Homo sapiens: one gene and its partners. The protein of the gene in region 1 purifies or fractionates together with the protein of each later gene. This does not show direct contact. Each region holds a gene or a part of one and is shown in the gene's direction. Other genes may lie near its edges.

Region 1 (7,028 bases):
TCAGGTTCCACTAGATGGTATGACAGTGGAATTAGCCCCAGGCAGTGTCTAAAATCCCACTTCTGTTGCTGACCCTGTGGCCTCAGAAAAGGGTTCTTTTTGCTTTGTTTCCTCTTTATCAGGGTGTTGGAAGAAGGATCTCTAAGTGTCTCTCTGTGATCCTCTGAGCAAGGAGGTAGATAAAATTGTTAGCTTATTTAATTTTCACTTTTACTAAGACTCTATTTTTATTTTAGCCGTATAGGTGAGGGACTTGATCAGGCTCTGCCCTGTCTGACAGAACTCATTCTCACCAATAATAGTCTCGTGGAACTGGTAAGTTGCACAGAAGGAAAATGTATTTGGTGGGTGGGGTTAAAGGTACTATGTGCTTCCTACAGAAAATTTACAAAATCTAGAAAATGATCTCAGTATCCTCTTTCTTGTCTTTTTCTTAATTCAGGATCTGGGCCTTTTGGGTTCTGCAGCCGTATGTTGCAAATATTTTCCTACTTTTACTTGACTTTTGACTTAGGATGTCTTGTTAGAGAAGTTCCTAATTTAGGTGCAGTCCAATGAATCAATCTTCTTCTTTATTGTAGCCCTTTTGATGTTTAAATTTCCCCTATTCCAGGGTTATAAACTCCTATGTTGTTTTCTACAATTGCAGTGTTCAATATAGTACCAGTAACTACAGGTGGCTACTTATAATTGAGATGTGCTAGAACTATAAAATACACACTGGATTTCAAAGACTTAAGTGCAAAAAAAAAAAAAAGTAAACTATCTCAGTAATTTTTTTATATCGATGTTGAAATGATAACGTTTTGGATAATAAGTTAAATGGCATATTATTAAAATTAGTTTCACCTATTTTAACATGGCTACTAGAAAATTTTAGATTACATATCTGATATGCATTAAATCTTGCTGAACAGTTCCAGTCTAGAAACCTTGTTTTACTCTTCACGTTAGATGAACAATCCACTTGGAACTGTTTTCATGCTTTTTAAATTTCTGTTCTGTGTATCCAATTTTTAACATAATTGAGATACTGTGTATTGTTTTGTAACCTAAATTCTTCACTTAAACACTGGATGCTTAAATTTATATTGTAGGCCAGGTGCCATAGCTCATGCCTGTAATCCAAGCACTTTGGGAAGCCAAGGTGGGAGGATCACTTGAGCCCAGGAGTTCTAGACCAGCCTGGGCAACATAGTGAGACCTTGTCTCTCTCTATAAGTAATTTTTTTAGAAAAGCCGGGTGCAGTGGCTCATGCCTGTAATCCCAGCACTTTGGGAGGCCGAGGCGGGTGGATCACGAGGTCAGGAGTTCAAGACCAGCCTGGGCAATATGGTGAAACCCCGTCTCTACTAAAAATACAAAAATTAGCCGGGCGTGGTGGTGGGTTCCTGTAATCCCAGCTTCTTGGGAGGCTGAGACAGGAGGATTGCTTGAACCCAGGAGGCAGAGGTTGCAATGAGCTGAGATCATGCCACTGCACTCCAGCCTGGGCAAAGAAAGAGACTCCGTCTCAAAAAAAAAAAAAAAAAAAATGCCAAAAGTGGTAGCGTGCATCTGTGGTCCCAGGTATTCCAGTGGCTAAAGTGGGAGGATCACTTGAGCCCTAGCCATCAGTCGAGGCTGCAGTGAGACATGATCATGTCTCTGTACTCCAGTCTGGGCAATAGTGCAAGACCTCATCTCAAAAAAAAAAAAAAATCGTATAACTTAATTTTGTGACTTAACCTTCCTCCCGTATTTTCCTGATTGTTGAGAATGAACTGTGTTCCTTTCCTTGTGGACAAGGTCCATAGCATCCTTCAGATTCTCAAGGAGATGCTTGACTACAAACATAAGACAGCACTGGTCCATGGCCATGTCCTTTCTGAAGTGTGTGAAGTATTCAACCCGAAATACATATTTATAGGCAATGTGTCTCATGATAGGTGCTGTTAGAGAAATTAGAGTTGTATTTAAAGCTCTTTGCAAAGATGAAGACTACTGGGCTTATCAGTTATTGAGAGAGGTATGTTAGAATCTCACAGCATGGTAGTGGATTTGACTATCCCTGAAGTTCTGTCGATTTTAGTTTTGTATATTTTGAAGTTGCCTTATTTGATACATACAAATTTTAAATTATTCATATCTTTCTGGTGAACGGAAACTTTTTATTATGTTGTGACCCTCGATCTCTATTAATGCTGTTTACCTTGAGGTTTCTTTTACCTCGAAACAATCTTTGTTTTGGTTAGTTATATGCATGATAAATCGTTTTCCATCCAAAATTTACTTTCAGCTTGTCTGTACCTCTTGTAGTTTAGATTTCTCTCTTAAAAACTGTATGGTTGAATTTTTTTTTTTTTTTTTTGAGATGGAGTGGCTGGAGTGCAGTGGCGAGATCTCGGCTCACTGCAACCTCTGCCTCCTGGGTTCAAGTGATTCTCCTGCTGCCTCAGCCTCCCGAGTAGCTGGGATTACAGGTGGGCGCCATCACATCTGGCTAATTTTTGTATTTTTTTTTTTTTTAGTAGAGACGAAGTTTCACCATGTTGGTCAGGCTGGTCTCGAACTCCTGACCTTGTGATCCACCCGCCTTGGCCTCCCAAAGTGCTGGGATTATAGGCGTGAGTCACCGCGCCCAGCTCTGGTTGGAATTTTTTACAATCCAGTCTGAAAGCTCTTTTAAGTGAATTATTTATATTTAGTCTGTTTACATTTAATGTAATTACTGGTGTGTTCCAGTTTGTCTTCTCTCTGTTCTGGGGCTTCCTGTCTGTCCCACCCGTTCTTCAATCCGTTTTCTCTCCTTTATTGTAGATGCTCTCCTTCTGTCATTCCATTTTTTCTTCTGATGGTTTAGAAATTACTCTCTTTCAATCTTGAGTTAGCATCGTAGGAATTAAAACACACATATTTATAAAAGTTTAAAATTAAATGTTAAGATCACTGTACCATGACCTTCAACATTTAATTTTAAACTTTGACACCTTTACCCTGCTAAACAATACAGTACAGTGACCTTCAACATTTCAGCAGCCTTCGGGTTGTTACATATTTATTCTTTTTTGAAGCCCATCACTACATCGCCATTACGTTTTACACTGTGTATGTAACAAATGTTACCACTTTGTTCTTTATTCCTTTTTGGATCATCTTCAGTGGGGGTAAAACAGTATCAAGCTCTAGAGCTCCCTCTGGTGGTTTTTGTGACATATTTGAAGATGGCAGCTTGCTTTTTGAGAATTTCTGGCTCTGCTCTCCCTGTTTTTATCTGTACTTTTTTTTCTCATTGTGCCTCTTGCACACACACACCCCTTCCCCACCATCTACCCAATTTGCGCCTGTTCCAGCAGTTTCTCTTCAGGGCAGGGCCGTGTTGGGACATGATTTCTATTAAGAGTGAGGGCCCAAATTGCTCTTGCCCCTGCAGCCCTTATCACAGACCCCTGTAGTCATTATTGGAACATGCTGGTCTTGGGCCTGCTTTTCTCAGTCACTGGAGTTCTCCAGTTTGTAAGACGGCTCCTCGCCTCCCCTCTGCTTCTTCCTGTACAAAGGCCGTCACCCTGCAAGCCTTGTTGCTCTCAACATGGGTTGTCTCTACTTGTTCCTATTTTAGAGTTACTGCAGAATGCCTTGCCATCTAGCTTGGTTGTAGCTGGTAACCATAGGTTTTTGTTTTTTTGCTATCCTTATTGCACTATGTTTTATGGAACAATTGGAGAAGATTAAAAATTCACCCTGCCCACTGGGCGTGGTGGCTCACGCCTGTAATCCCAGCTCTTTGGGAGGCCGAGGCAGGCAGATCACGAGGTCAGGAGATCGAGACCATCGTGGCTAATACAGTGAAACCCCGTCTCTACTAAAAATGCAAAAAAAATTAGCCGGGCATGGTGGTGGGCGCCTGTAGTCCCAGCTACTTGGGAGGCTGAGGCAGGAGAATGGCATGAATTCGGGAGGCGGAGCTTGCAGTGAGCCAAGATCACGCCACTGTACTCCAGCCTGGGCAACAGAGCGAGACTCCGTCTCAAAAAAAAAAAAAAAAAAAATCACCCTGCCTTCTTTCCATTAATTCGATCATTTTTAAGCTATACTATTCCTTGTCCCTGCAAATTTTATTTAAAGAGATTTTCAGGGGCAGCTAGGATAAATGTACCTTCTTTCAAAAGACAGTATACCTTTGTTGTTCTTAGACGCTGAAGCTGGCGCTAGCAGGAAAGCCCACTTACACCAAGATTCTGGCTTGCAGTTCCCAGTGTGAATAGGTTGCTCCAGAGTCCCATCAGCTTTGCCATTGTTTTCTTTTCCAAATCATGGCTCAGCAGCCACTTTGAGATTCCTGTAGGAAAGCAATTTCTTATCTCCTGCTATTGAGACAGAAGCTGTTAATGCCAAGATTTTAAGAAGCTCCCATGTATTCATCGGTAGAAATTATTTAAACATTTGTGATGTGCTAGTATTGGGCTTGTTGCTAGAGAGTAAAAATTCAGTAAATAATGAAAAGACAACTTGCTTCAAAAGCACTCTCCATTTCAGAATCTCAAAATAGCGTGTGGTATTCGCGTTCTTACCTGTGGCTATTGCTTGACAGGGTGATCTGGACCCTCTGGCATCTCTCAAATCGCTGACTTACCTAAGGTATGGGAATTACATATTGTGACAAAATGAAGCCCTTTAAAATAACATTACTTTTACCAGCCTTGACCTTAATGTAATCAGATAATTAAAAAATGTGGCACATATGCACCATGGAATACTATGCAGCCATAAAAAAGGATGAGTTCATGTCCTCTGTAGGGACATGGATGAAGCTGGAAACCATCATTCTCAGCAAACTATCGCAAGGACAAAAAACCAAACACCCCATGTTCTCACTCGTAGGTGAGAATTGAACAATGAGAACACTTGGACACAGGAAGGGGAACATCACACACCGGGGCCTGTTGTGGGGTGGGGAAAGGGGGGAGGGAAAGCATTAGGAGATATACCTAATGTAAATGACAAGTTAATGGGTGCAGCCCACCAACATGGCACATGTATACATATGTAACAAACCTGCAAGTTGTGCACATGTACCCTAGAACTTAAAAGTATAATTTAAAAAAAAAGTGCCTTTTACAAAGAAAGATTGAATATATTTCCTTAATGTTAAATTGTTACAATGTTGCAATGTGAAGAATGTGAATGTTCCCTTGATTTATAGGTTCCTTAGACTATTCAAACAGACCTCTTGAGTGCTGTGCCATGAACAAGTTTGCCATTGTGTCATTCCTTTTCTTGTAGTATCCTAAGAAATCCGGTAACCAATAAGAAGCATTACAGATTGTATGTGATTTATAAAGTTCCGCAAGTCAGAGTACTGGATTTCCAGAAAGTGAAACTAAAAGTAAGTAGTAATCTGTTGCTTGTGAGCCATTATAGAGTTGTGTGTTTTTCTTTATATTTTTGTTACTGATTATTAAAATTGTCTAAATGAGTAAATTTTACCATTAGTTTGTAATAAAAGTGGGAGGGAAAATGTTACATCACATTTTTTTCTAATAGCAGAGTTTATGATAGAACTTTTAAGTTGGAGCTCTCTTATGTAATGCTGGCTATTCCGAAGTTCGCAAAGTGCTGAGGCCACGGTGAGCAGTCTTAACAGTGGATTGTCTGCCTAGATACGTTCCCAGCGGAGAACTTAATGTAACCTACTTTCGTGCAGCTCCGTGTGTTAGGATGATTTTTCCCTTTATTAGGAATTCATTATTTTATTATTCATTTAATTGCCTTCTTAGTTCCCTGGGATCCCCTCCTTGGAGCTAGGAGAATGAACTTTCTTCAGGGAGCTCTACCAAAGAAAGAAGACCACTGTGTCTTCTCTTAATTTGAAATTGCTTTTTGGTATTTTCACCAGCCCGGAGTACTGTAGGAGAGTTCGCTTCCATGTCTTCTGAGGAATGCATCTAAATGCATGTGGTATTCCTATTTCCATTAACTCTGTGTGTGGTGTCGCTGTAGGAGCGTCAGGAAGCAGAGAAAATGTTCAAGGGCAAACGGGGTGCACAGCTTGCAAAGGATATTGCCAGGAGAAGCAAAACGTAAGACACGGATATCCAACTTAACTCTACTTCACCTTCAGAAACATGATCTGATCTGTCTGGCAGTTCGTCTCCTACAAAATTAACCAAAAACTCTGACATATTAATGTGGTATTAAATTTGAGTGCTTATAGTCCATGTACATCAATGGTCCACACATCACAAGAAATTTCTACCAGCTTAGCAGAGCAAATATTTCAGTAGTCAGTCTTCATGTGATACCATGTACATCCTATTTTCTATATAGGAAGATGAACTGGATGGTGTTTCTGAAGGAGAGAGTTCTTGTATCAGTTTGTTAACAAAGATAAGATACTACACTGGTTGAATTACTTTCAAAAGCTTTTGAAAGTAAAAGAGAAGCAACTTCTGTTGGTCTAGGTCTAACAGTTATGTTCTTCCCCCTCTTAAGTTTTAATCCAGGTGCTGGTTTGCCAACTGACAAAAAGAAAGGTGGGCCATCTCCAGGGGATGTAGAAGCAATCAAGGTAATCATGTGTTAGGATTCTTGGACTGGAATGAGCTAAGATGGGTTCAGAACACAAAGCTGGATAATAAACATGTTCCGAACATTGCAGATTTCATTTTCCCACAGTTATTAGCATACAGCAATATTTCTGTTTAAGGAAAAACTAGCATAAAGTTATTATTTGATCAGACTTGAAATTACACAAGCTAATTAATGTGGAGGCAGCTTTGTCTTTCTCATTTTCCAAGGTGCATTTATCACTTCGAACAGTTACTTACCTTGGTATGCTGTCTCAGTGTTTGCCTTAATTTTTACTTTCGAAGATTTGCTGTCTGGCAAATCCTTTTGACTGATCAGTAGGGACCCTCGTTTTATAATATTGCCTCCTTAAATTATTCAGTAACATAATTGCAAATAGTTACTTCACTTAGCTACGATTTTAGAACATGTGGAGTGATTATTTATAAGAAGGCCTGCATCTCTTCACCAATTTTAG
Region 2 (7,028 bases), on another chromosome or scaffold:
GGGTTTCATCTGTTGGCCTCTTGACCTTGTGACCCCCCCCCCCCGCCTCGGCCTCCCAAAGTGCGGGGATTATAGGCGTGAGCCACCGTGCCTGGCTTCTAGTTTTAAAATGATACTTTATGTATGTGTATGTACTTGAATGACTTACCTTTATTCATAATTGTCCCTAATGAAGAGACCCCTGTGCACTTTAATTTTCTGTGTAATTTTGTTGTGCTTTGCATTTTAGAGCCTGGCAGATGTAGACATTTAACAAATGTTCTAGAAATGAGCTAAAATTTTCCTGTGCATTTGTTTGTTTATCACTAGTCTAAAATATTGCTTGGTTGGGGAGGGGTGTTGATGTTATGTAGTAGCTTTCATTTTGAGAGGAGAGAGAGAGAGCCTGTAATTGTTTACTTATAAAATTGTTAAGCATATTTCCTTAGAATTTAATTTATAAAAAAATTACTGTTTTTGACTGTCAATTGTTTGCTTACTCAGCAAAATTAGGATATGAAGAAAATGTAGTATTTTCTTTCCTTCTGCCATCTCCTGTGCTGGTAATATTGCTAATGTAATGTAATTGTGTGCCCTGCTATTTCACTCTGTGACTATGGCTTTTTTTTTTTTTTTCTTTTTTGCCGTATCGCCAAAAATTGAGTTAGGTGAATGGATAAAACAAAATACTACAGGCTTCCTTGGACATCCAGTGCTGAATTGCTTTGGGAACTGTTTTGATTGACTGCCTTTGCTGATTAACAAAAAGTATCACTTTTAAGAAATAAGTAAACTGAGGACCTGTTCAAGGCTTGTGAACCTTAGGTATTTATTACTGCCAGTTTTCATTTTTTGTGGTACCTGAAAGTTTATGAAAAAGTCCAAACAAAATACAAACCTTGAAAATCAGGCTTTCAAACAGTTTGCCAATTTTAAACTGAATCTTTATTATGGTTTATGGTTGTAACCTTATCTTAAAATGTAAGGTAGTTTTTTTGGTAGAAGGTTTTGTTTTGGTCTGGAAGGTAGAACTGAACTTCCTTCCATTTTCTCGATTGATAACTTTTTCGAAACTTGAACCTGCAGCACGGGTGCTAGAATATGCCTGTTGGTATGGTTTTAAAAATAATTCCTATCTTTCTGGATTGAATTGTTTTCTGAAAGTCCAGTTTTTATTTTCACTTTTTGTTTTTTATTTCTGAAGCTTTGTTTTCCTTGGAAAGTAAACCTAAGAAAGATACCCATTTGCCTTACTGGGTATCATTGAGAGAAGAGCTCATTTAGTATGCCGGTTGAAGTATCTACCCCTCTACCCTCCACCCTTTTTTTCAAGGAGCCATCATTTTTGGAATAAAAAGAAAAACTTGCTACAAGATATTAAAATCAAAAATAGTAATATTACAAACTATTTGCCTCATTCTAGTATAGGTGGTTTTAACATTTTATTGCACATCAGCTGTGAGCTGGATATTTTGCTGAAATAACGTTTTTGAAAGCAAGATACATTTGTCAGTAGCACTTGAGGCTAACGGTAGTGTTAGACATATATTCCTTGAGTTAAGTTTTTTCACAAGGCCCTTCCTCAGTTTAGATAAACTATAGGTTATTCAGAGTGTACTTACAACTTTTCATATAGTATTGGTAGTGTTTTGAATAATTTAAAAAATCATCTTAGGTTTGTTATTTAACTTTATTTATATAGTGCTTGTATTAATGATTTTGTGAATGTTTTTTAAAGATGGATACCTTGATTTGGCTTGGATAGTGGTATTAAGCTAGGTAGCTGTTGTTAATGAGTGGACAGCATAGTATGTTGATAGTGTGGAGTGTAATTTTGTTTGGTGGTAGGCACTTGTTCTGACAAGTCAAGTATATTGAGACTCTGTCGCTTGCCAGATCTTGTGCTTGATGTTGAGTTAGAAAATGTTAAATAAGAATGTACCCATTTTTAGCGGCCGGGCACAGTGCCTCCCGCCTGTAATCCCAGCACTTTGGGAGGCCAAGGCGGGTGGATCACCTGAGGTCGGGAGTTCAAGACCAGCCTGACCAATATGGAGAAACCCCATCTCTGCTGAAAATACAAAATTAGCTGGGCATGGTGGCACATGCTACTCGGGAGGCTGAGGCAGGAGAATCGCTTGAACCTGGGAGGCGGAGGTTGCCGAGAGCCGAGATCATGCCATTGCACTCCAGCCTGGGCAAAAAGAGCGAAACTCCGTCTCAAAAAAAAGAATGTACCCATCTTTGAGGAGCATGCTGTCTAGTAGAAGAGAGTCAGCACAATGCAATTAAGGTGGTGTTATGCTTCCTATAGGAGAGATTGTTAAACTTGTGGAGATGAAAGTTGCTTCTCTTAGAGGGTGAGAGGAGAAACGTGGGAGATTAGGAGACAGATACACGAATGGAGAGCTCACTAGGCAGAATGGTAGTGTTGGAGGAATGTTGCTGTGGATAGCTTGGTAATTTGGAAACTCAGATGTGGGGTTTTCACTTAAAGTAAAATTGGAGCAGCCAGAAGAAAACTAGTTTTGTTCTCAGCCAGCAAGCTATAGGGCAACAGGTAGTGTAGTTGGCTTCACTTTTATCCCTTTAGCAGCCATCAGAATGATCTTTTTTCCTTTTGGATTTTCTTGCTGTCCCTCCCCACATTTCTACTGTCTGCTTTCTCTGCCTTAAAATAAATTTCTCTTGTGTATGCTACTTTATTGTGTCAAACTTCCCTTAGTCTGCCTTTTCACTTCTTCCTTTTGTATTTTTCTTTTCTTTTCTTTTTTTTTTTTTCCAGAGACAGGGGTTCTTGCTATGTTGCCCAGGCTGGTCTTGAACTCCTGGCCTCGAGCAGTCGTCCCACCTCAGCCTCCCTAGTAGCTGAGATTATAGGCATGAGCCACTCCCTCCAGCAGCTTTTGGGTCCTTTCAAGAGATTTTTTTTTTTTTTTTTTTGAGACAGAGTCTCGCTCTGTCGCCCAGGCCTGCAGTAGTGCTATCTCAGCTCACTGCAAGCTCCGCCTCCCGGGTTCACGTCATTCTCCTGCCTCAGCCTCCCGAGTAGCTGGGACTACAGGTGCCCGCCACCGCACCTGGCCAATTTTTTGTATTTTTAGTAGAGACGGGATTTTGCTGTGTTAGCCAGGATGGTCTTGATCTCCTCTGACTTTGTGATCCGCCCGCCTTGGCCTCCCAAAGTGCTGAGATTACAGGCGTGAGCCACCGCGCCCGGCCGACTTCAGGAGATCTTTAGGCATCATTGGTTTGTGTTCTTCAGTTAAAAATAAAAAGCCAAACTCAAGACAAAGAATACAGTTCAGTTCCAGGTTAGGAAGAGGGAGAAGCTCAGCTTCTGAAGTAGTGCTATATTTACTGTTTACCTTGACTGTTATCTTTAGAAGTTGATGATTATTTTAAAAATTGTGTTAACTGCTGTTTGAACTGTTAAAGTTCCGTGCTGAATGCTATGTAGCTGTAGGTATGTATCAGTGGAAAATGTCTGGTTTGCAGTAAATGTGATTAGTGACATCTTAAGCTAACTGAAATCAGCTGGTGCATTGTCCTACACCGGTGCATTGTGCTACACTATGCTGTTACTGCTCTGTTTGCAAATTTATCAAATTGTGTAATTTTGAAAGCTGACAAAATTGTTACTTTTGAACTGATTATTTTTGTATTAGAGATTATTTAATTTGGTGAATGGTTACGCAAGTGAGATCCTTGAAGATTATAGAGCTTCATCTTTTGATGACTTGGAGTCAGGGAAGAGTTAACTATATGGAAATAGGCAGAATGCCTAGGTTCTTGTATCTTTTGTTTTTAAATCCTAGAAATGATGATTTGGATGTGGTGGCATCAAAGACTACAGAAAGGGTAGCGCTTTCTTAGTTATTCTTTTGGATGCTTATTCTTTCTGGGTGAACTTTAGAATTGTTTTGGCAATTCTTTTGCCCCCTTGCAAATATTTCCCTTTGGAATTTAGAGCGGTTGAATGAAATTGTATTAAATATGTAAAGAAATTTAGGTGTCATTGACATTATCTTAATATTGAATTTTCCCATCCAGTAATATGAATCTTTTGAAAAGGTGGCTTGAGTAACTGGATTTTTCTCGAAGTTTTTGTTTTCTTCACAAGGGTTATATACATTTCTTAAATTGGTTTCTAGATGTTTTTATATTTTTTGTTGCTTTTATGATTAGGATGTTTTTGTTGCTTAGCAAGTTAATACTGGTGTATTGGAAGGCAATTGAGTTTTTTTTGTTACTATTGTTTGTTTTTGATATGGAGTCTCTGTCGCCTAGGCGGTAGTGCAGTGGCGCGATCTCAGCTCACTGCAAGCTCTGCCTCCCGGGTTCACACCATTCTCCTGCCTCAGCGAGTAGCTGGGACTACAGGCGCCTGGCTAATTTTTGTATTTTTAGTAGAGATGGGGTTTCACCAGGTTTGGCCAGGATGGTCTCCATCTCTTGATCCACCCGCCTCGGCCTCCCAAAGTGCTCGGATTACAGGCGTGAGCCACTGCACCTGGCCCAGGCAGTTGATTTTTTTCAGTCCCTTCAGCCTCTTGCCTGAACTTGTTTTTCTTTTGTAAGAGTAGTTATTTATTCTTTTGGATTTTTAAATTTCTAGATATTTGTAAATTTATGCATTTCAAGATATGTTTCAGGGTGTGTTTCATAGTTAATAAATACTAAAAATTTTCTTTTATACCACCTTGACATTTAAGAAAGATTAGCCGCTAGAAGAAAATCAGGGTGGACACAAAAGTTGGGGACAGAAAAACCATGGACAGAAAGAGTGAGATGGGGCCGGGTGCGGTCGCTCATGTCTGTAATCCTAGCACTTTCAGAGGCTGAGGTGGACAGATCACCTGAGGTCAGGAGTTCGAGACCAGCCTGGCCAACGTGGTAAAACTCCGTCTCTACTAAAAATACAAAAATTAGCCAGGCATGGTGGTGCGTGCCTGTACTCCTAGCTACCCAGGAGGCTGAGGGAGGAGAATTACTGGAACCCGGGAGGCGGAGGCTGCAGTGAGCCGAGGTCGCGCCACTGTACTCCAGCCTGGGAGACAGAGTAAGACTCTGTCTCAAGAAAAAAAAAAAATGAAAGAAAGAATGAGATGGGAGGGGTCCCAGTGCTTGGTTGTCCTGTTGTCCTGGGCTGATTTTTGCCTATGCTAATGCGCAATACAGTGGAGTTCAGAGGAGTAAATTGATTCAGTGTAAAAATCTTACCAGCTGTTCTTAGCCTTATGTCTGGACAATGTAAATAAAACAATACTGTATGGATCTTTGCTCTTTTTTAAATAACATGAATCTTCAGTTTTTCTCTTAAACTAATATTTTATCTTGTACTTTATATGACATCTTGTCTGGGAGTTGGGGTCAGGTGAGATATTTGTGATCTCAATATTCTTGATTTCATTTGAACATTTGACACTTAAATATATAAATAAAAACAAGTAAAATTTCACTACCGTATACCCTCAAAAATAAAAACAGCTCAGTGACAGTTATATTTTGGATCCCCAAGTAAAAATTCTTGGAGAATCTTTCTTTCAGAAAGATAGCATACATTATTTAGTTAATCGTCCTACAGCTTGTCATCTTTGTCTTTACATGTGTAGTGGCAACAAGTTATTGCATACCATGTATAATCTGATAGGTAGATCACTTAAGAAAAGTTGAAGTTTTAACAGTTGACATCACTGGAAGATATTATATGAACTCTTTCTCATGCCACCAGGCAGCCTGTGACATGCTATCGAATCATCTCCCTTAAAACGAGTTGTAAATGGTGCCTTATTGGGGATTTGATAATATTTTCTGGAACTTTGCAGAATTTGTACCTTTTAATAGACAGCAAGGATTTATATGTGGATTTCTTTATGTGGCTTTGGGTGATTAGAGAAAGAGAGTTCTCGTGCTGTGGACCAAGAAGTTGCTGGGCAGTGCTGTGGCAGTAAACGATGCATCTATGATTAGGAAGAGCTTTTGCATAAAACTGTGTAAAAATGGTGGTTAGGTTTCCAGTGTATACTATAAAGAGGTAATTTTGCCTCATATATATCCCACTAGTGTTTATTATATTTTTGGAAATATGCAGGCTGAATTTTAAAGAAATGACTTACACATTTACTTTGTATCACAATCTTTTCATAAGTCAGAGACTGCCTTTGCTCAGTTTTATTAGCTGAGGAGAAATTGCCAGAAGTTAGGAAACTCTTAAGTTTGTATAACACGAGAGACATGTTTTGTTAGTATAAGACATTTTAAATTATTGACTTTTATTTTTGATACTTGTAGACGAGATCATCAGATGTTCATTCATCTGGATCTTCAGATGCACATGTGAGTATAGAAGGCAATCTTTGTCTTTTTTCCTTTAAAATTTAACTTCTCCTCATATGTATCCCTACATCAATGATTTTACTTGACAAATAAATACAATTGTATGTGCTTTTTTCTTTTACTCTTTTTTTTCTAGGCGCCTTCCTTTTTTTTTTTTATGTTCTGCTTGCATAACTTAGCCCTCTGAAGCGATGTTAGAAACCTAGTATGTATATTTCCTTATGATTTTTATTGTGTAAAAATCTGTACATACATAACGTATCTATACTTATACTTTGACTATGGGATTGCATTATGCATATGCCTTTCTCACCGCACAAAACATATGTTGGAAATCCCTGCAGGTAAACTGTTAACAGCTCTAATCTGTTCTTTCTTAAGGCATCATAATGTTCTGTGGTGGGGAAGTGCAGTTGTTTGTTATTTCTTTGTTGATGGGCATATATTTTTTGTTTAAAGCTTTCAAGTAACATTTTGGATAGATAATACTACAATAAGTATTTTTTTAATATATGTTATTACAGCAGTGTTCAAAGTGTAGTCTGAAGACCCCTGGAGTCACTGAGAATCTCTGAGAAGGGTCTGTGAATTCAAAACTATTTTGTAATAATACTAAGGCATTATTTATGCCTTTTTCACCATTTTGGCATTTGCACTAATGCAAGTGTAGCTGGAGGTACAAAAGCATTTGGTGGGTAAACTGTTGGCAC
Region 3 (6,269 bases), on another chromosome or scaffold:
CACAGTACCATAGCCTCTGACACCCGAACTCATATGAAAGGGCTAGTGACTTAAGAGTCCATCTGAAAGGATTTCTAAAGTTTTTATTTTAAAAAAATTATTATTTTACCACAGTAATGACTACGTATAAAGTTTTTATTTCTAGTCGGAATTCCGTCTTGTATGACTTGAGAGCTCCTTCCTGGCTTTAGGACTATGAGGTCTTGAGGACCCTCCTTTTGAATGACACTGTCCCTCCAGAGAGTAAACCAAGAGCTGGAAATACATGATCATTGGTACTCAGATGGGGATGAAAGTGAAAGTGTTATAGACCAGCTGTCCTTTTTAGGAGGTCTCAGTCCTTTGAGCATCTGATAAAAGCTTTAGACTCCTTCCACAGAAGAATACACTCATGTTGCATATATTTCAGGGGATACATGGACTCTAGGTCAAGAAACCCTGCTCTAGATACAGAATGGTATACAAGGCCAGGAGTTCAAGACCTGCCTGGCCAACATGGCGAATCCCTGCCTTGGGGATCAGGAGACAAGATTCTACTTCAGGCCTTGTTACTAGCCATGTGTGTGACTAGTTGCCTAGCTTTTTTGGTTTTCTCTTCATGTATGAGATAATCTGGGTGGTGGCCTTTTAGCTTTTAATGTGGAAACAGCATAGATTGGTTGTAAGGCCTGGGTTCAAATACTGGCTTGCCTACTCTTACGAAACTGGAGAAAATATTTAACCTTATCTGGGTTTCAATTATCTATGAAATACAGTCTTCCTAACCTACTGTCTTAAAAGAATTTTAATTTGGATGAAATTACACAGTGTCTGTGAAGGTACTTTATCAGTTTTCCTTCCCAGTGTACATTAGCCACTCTTCTGCTCCCATAGCATTTCCATGTGTCTCTCCTAGGTTAACACATGGTTTTGCTGTTGTCTCTATATTCATCTGTCACCCTGGGCAGGTTGTGAGTTCCTCCAGGGCTCGTACCATATATTATTTTTGTTTTTGTGTTGATAGCACTTGTGCGATACATGGTAAGCACCCGATGTATACTAAATGAATAATATAGAAAATAGTAGAATAGGCCAGATGTGGTGGCTCACACCTGTAATCCCGGCACTTTGGGAGGCCGAGACAGGCAGATCACCAGAGGTTAGGAGTTCGAGACCACCCTGGCCAAATGGTGAAACCCCCTCTCTAAAAAAAAATACAAAAATTAGCTGGGCATGGTGGCACGCGCCTGTAATGCAATTACTCAGGAGGCTCAAGTGGGAGAATCGCTTGAACCTGGGAGGCTGAGGCTGCAGTGAGTGAGCCGAGATCATGCCACTGCACTCCAGTCTGGGCGACAGAGTGAGATCCTGTTTCAACAAAAGAAAAGAAAATAGAAGAATAATATAAAAAGTGGTTGTGATTGGTTTACTAGGGCATTATAAAATTTATTGATAGTACTCAATTAAGGGATGCTTAAAATCAGTGAAGTTAGAGAATGTTTCAGAAAGCCAAAATGAAAGGACAGGGAATAAAGCAGGGGCATCTTCAGAAGAGTGCAGAGCAGCTCAGAACCTTTGTGCTTCTATTTTCCTTGTATCTGGAATGGTTTTCACCAGCTCATCTCATGCCTGGCTCCTCCTCATTCTTCAGGTCTCAGCTTCAGTGTCACCTTTTCAGAGGGGTTTTCCCTGACCACCCTAGCTGAAGTAGCTCCCTGTTTCCCTATCTGTTACAGCTTTCTACTTCTTGTATGAAACATTTCTTTTTTTAAGATGGAGTTTCGCTCTTGTTGCCCAGGCTGGAGTGCAATGGCACGATCTCGGCTCACTGCAAACTCCGCCTCCCAGGTTCAAGTGGTTCTCCAGCCTCAGCCTCCTGAGTTGCTGAGATTACAGGCACCCACCAGCATGCCTGGCTAATTTTTGTATTTTTAGTAGAGATGGGGTTTCACCACGTTGGCCAGGCTGGTCTTGAACTCCTGACCTCAGGTGATCCTCCCACCTCGGCTTCCCAAAGTGCTGGGATTACAAGCATGAGCCACCGTGCCAAGCCGAAACATTTCTTAAGATTTATAATTATTTCAGGGCTGGGCGCAGTGGCTCACGCCTGTAATGCCAGCACTTTGGAAGGCTGAAGTGGGCAGATCACAAGGTCAGGAGTTTGAGAACAGCCTGACCAACATGGTGAAACCTCGTCTCTACTAAAAATACAAAACTTAGCCAGGCGTGGTGGTGCATGCCTATAATCCCAGCTACTCAGGAGGCTGAGGCAGGAGAGCCGCTTGAACCCGGGAGGTGGAGGTTGCAGTGAGCCAAGATCATGCCACTGTACTCCAGCCTGGGCGACAGAGTGCGACTCCGTCTCAAAAAGAAAAAAAAAAGATTTATAATGATTTCATATTTATTTAATGTCTTTCTACTGCCTGAATATAAGCTTGAAGGAAGGGATGATGCTTATCTTTTTCACTATTGTATTTCTAGTGCCTGTCGCAGAAAGAACATAGTCTATGTGTTGAATAGGTTAATAGAAGTTTAGGGTACAGGAGCTTAGGTCTAAATTATAGATTGAGAAACAGCTGTTTTTCTGTTCCATTACTGTGATCATGCTTTATTGTATACCTGGCACCTGGCACTAGGGTGACCAACCTTCCCAGTTTGCCCAGTACTGAGAGATTTTCTGGGACACTGGACTTTCAGTGCTAAAACCTGGACAGTCCCAGTCAAATCAGGATGATTTGGTTTGACCCTACCTGGCATGTAGCAGGCACTTGGTACTTTGTACTTTTTAAAACTCTTTGATACTTGTTACCTCTTTTGATTATTAAACCCACGTGGAAGGTAGGGCACGTGATAGAGCCTGATGGCACTGGATACATGAAGCATCCGAAGCTCACAGAGGCTAAGTTACACGCTTAGGTGTTCTTATTCCTACTCTAAGATTTTAATGCCAGTCAAGAAAATTGTAGCACTTTGGGAGGCTGAGGTGGGTGGATCACTTGAGGCCAGGAGTTCGAGACCTGCCTGGCCAACATGGCAAAACCCCATCTCTACTAAAAATACAAAAATTAGTCGGGCATGGTGGCGCACACCTGCACAAGAATTGGTTGACTCTGTCTCAAAAAAATAAGAAAATAATGTTAGCTCAGTGTCCAATACGTGGTAGGTACAGATACATGCTTTTAAAAGTTCAAATTATAATATGGCTCTCAAGGTGTGAGGTTGATAATTAGGGCTGGGACACTTAAGATGGAGAGTCTTTAAAGTGGGGTTAGTGTCTATCCCTATTCTAGTTCCTAAGAAGATATAAGAGGAAGAAAGAGAGTTGCTTTGTTTAGTTTTGTTTTGAGCTTCCTGAACAAAGTGTGTGTGAGAGAACTGATAGAAGAAAGTAGATCTCCACTTTTCAAAGGCGTATTAGCGTCTGCCTTATGCGTGGCACTAAAGGAATAAATGAAGTACGCATAAGATCACCTTTGCTCTTAAGGAACTGAAAATCTTATTAAGTTTTTAGAAGTCAAAAGTCTGAAAGTTGTTAAGACTTGCCAGAGCCTAAAGAACATTCTAAAACCCCTCGTCAGGCCCACACAACCTGACAAAGTGAGCGCATTCATTGACAGTGGCACCCTCCAATCACCCCCAGTACCCTATTCCTTTTCAATTTTACAGGAAGCACAAGCTTGAACAGGGCCCAGACTATAGTCCTATCCTAGATCAAGTCTAGGCAGGTACCTCCTCTTCCCATGGCTCCACTGCTTTTATTCAACCCTATGTAAGGACTGTGGCAGATGGAGAGTCAGCCCACAGTCTTAAACCTCATTCCACAGTTGCACTGGGTGGTTGGAACACAGATGGAGGCAAGGGGGCCATCTTGTCACCCAGAGCCTGAACTGAGTGGGACCTCTACCCATTGTCTCCACTAACAGTCACATGGCCACCTGCTGCCTGCAATTTAGCGTTGCGTTGCTCCTCAAACTTCTCTACCTCTCCCAGAGGAAGTTGGTGAGGTGAAGGAAGGAAGTGGCCAGGAATAACTACACTAACAGCAACCTCGTATCCATAAGTAAGGTTAGCTTCCACTTCCAGCCACCTTCCAGCATTCTGCCCTGGCTCACTGATAACCCTATCCACAAGCACACTTCCACTCCCATCTTTGCAGAAGCCTAGCCCTTCTCCCTAGCCACACAGCTGTATCGTGCATTAGCACTTGAGTTGTATTAAAAATGAATGTAGACCGGGTGTGGTGGCTCATGCCTGTAATTCCAACACCTTGGGAGGCTGAGGCAGGCGGATCACTTGAAGTCAGGAGTTTAAGACCAGCCTGGGGAACATGATGAAACCCTGTCTCTACTAAAAATACAAAAATTAGCTGGGCATGGTGGCACATGCCTCCAGTCCCAGCTACTTGGGAGGCTGAGACACAAGAATCACTTGAACTTGAGAGGCAGAGGTTGCAATGAGCTGAGATTGTGCCACTGCACTCCAGCCTAGGCAACAGAGTGAGAGTCTATCTCAAAAAAACAAAAACAAAAACAAAAACAAAACAAAACAAAGACAACGTAGAGCCAGTCAGGGTGGCAAGAGCACCTGTAGTCCCCACAACTCACGAGGCTGTTCTGTGTAGTAGCTGTGTTCTTAGTATTCCTGATGTGACAGTCAGCTTGACCTATGGATATTTTAGTTAAGATAAAAACGAAGAACAAAATTACCTAATTCAAGAAATTACAGGCTTATCCGGTATATCTATCCATGTTTATTTCCTCTGATGGTTTCAGGTTGATTTCAAAATACTTAACTAAAAACGTATTTCAATTTACTGTTTTTAAAAGACAGTTACCAGTTTAAAAGACAGTTCTGTAAGTCAACTATCAATGCTCAGGTAAATGTATATCTTAATTAAGTTTAACTTACCTCTCCAGGGGGAACACACCTGAAACTAGAGGAACAGCTTATGTGGTCTATGAGGACATCTTTGATGCCAAGAATGCATGTGATCACCTATCGGGATTCAATGTTTGTAACAGATACCTTGTGGTTTTGTACTATAATGCCAACAGGGTAAGTATAGCAAAGTTCTCATTGTGTAGTGATCTCATTTGAGAATTAGTGTAGAACTGGCCGGGCGCGGTGGCTCATGCCTGTAATCCCAGCATTTTGGGAGGCCGAGGTGGGCGGATCACGAGGTCAGGAGATCGAGACCATCCTGGCTAACACGGTGAAACCCCGTCTGTACTAAAAATACAAAAAATTAGCCGGGCGTGGTGGCGGGCGCCTGTAGTCCCAGCTACTCGGGAGGCTGAGGCAGGAGAATGGCGTGAACCCCAGGGGGTGGAGCCTGCAGTGAGCCAAGATCACGCCACTGCACTCCAGCCTGGGCAACAGAGAGACTCCGTCTCAAGAGAATTAGTGTAGAACTGTACTGTGATGATATATGTCTACTATGACTTTCTTTTTTGGCTAATGCTATTGATGAAATTCATTTGGCTGTAGATTGGTAATTTAATTTTGGTGCTTACCACATTTCCAGGCATTTCAGAAGATGGACACAAAGAAGAAGGAGGAACAGTTGAAGCTTCTCAAGGAGAAATATGGCATCAACACAGATCCACCAAAATAAATGTTTTCTACATTTTCATTTGGACTAAATCCCACGAATGACAACTACCACCTTTTTTTCCTTTTTAATTAATACTAAATATTGTGATTTCTTATTTGAGGTTCAAAATGACCTGCTTGAAACTTTGATACATATTGGAATACATTATGTTAATAAACTTGTAGCTTTTTGTGAAACACCTCAGTCTTTTCTCTTGAACTTTCCCTTCCTGTTTGATACCAGGAAAAAACAGTTGAAGCTTATCAAGAATTGTAGGTGCTCCTAGGGATTCTGAGTTTCTTGAGAACAGGATCTCTTTACATTCTTAATGCCTCCAGGGCCCGGTGCAGTGCTTAGCCATCAAAGGAACTTGCTGTTTATTGCATGTCCATTAATAATGAAATCTTCATAACAACTCAGTGAAGATAGGTATTTGCATTTTGCAGGTGAGGAAACCAAAGTTCATGATGTTGGTTGAATGAATAAAATGCTAACATACAAAGCTGGTGTGATAACAACCAGTTATTAACCAAGCCTTTACATTTGAATAATGCTTGCTTTATAGTTAACAAAACACCTGTGTCAATATGGGTACCCTTGTCTTTAGAACAGAGGTCTATTATAGAAATGGTCATTTAGATGATAGTACATTGTTAGAAACTTAGATTTGCCTCTTTAAATTGTTTTTTAATTATTA

Evidence for each region.
Region 2: the proteins of SNRPA1 (region 1) and U2SURP purify together in Homo sapiens (affinity purification with mass spectrometry; 5 studies listed by BioGRID and IntAct, with this or other methods). This does not show direct contact.
Region 3: the proteins of SNRPA1 (region 1) and SF3B6 purify together in Homo sapiens (affinity purification with mass spectrometry; 5 studies listed by BioGRID and IntAct, with this or other methods). This does not show direct contact.

Annotation. Positions count from the first base shown.
Region 1 is NC_000015.10:101,285,249-101,292,276, reverse strand, and holds part of SNRPA1 (U2 small nuclear ribonucleoprotein A'), read left to right. Parts: intron 1-236; coding exon 237-315; intron 316-4,574; coding exon 4,575-4,621; intron 4,622-5,266; coding exon 5,267-5,369; intron 5,370-5,983; coding exon 5,984-6,063; intron 6,064-6,475; coding exon 6,476-6,551; intron 6,552-7,028. UniProt on the Homo sapiens protein: Involved in pre-mRNA splicing as component of the spliceosome. Associated with sn-RNP U2, where it contributes to the binding of stem loop IV of U2 snRNA.
Region 2 is NC_000003.12:143,004,542-143,011,569, forward strand, and holds part of U2SURP (U2 snRNP-associated SURP motif-containing protein), read left to right. Parts: intron 1-6,273; coding exon 6,274-6,318; intron 6,319-7,028.
Region 3 is NC_000002.12:24,067,086-24,073,354, reverse strand, and holds the end of SF3B6 (splicing factor 3B subunit 6), read left to right. Parts: intron 1-4,895; coding exon 4,896-5,034; intron 5,035-5,503; coding exon 5,504-5,593; 3' UTR 5,594-5,769; downstream 5,770-6,269.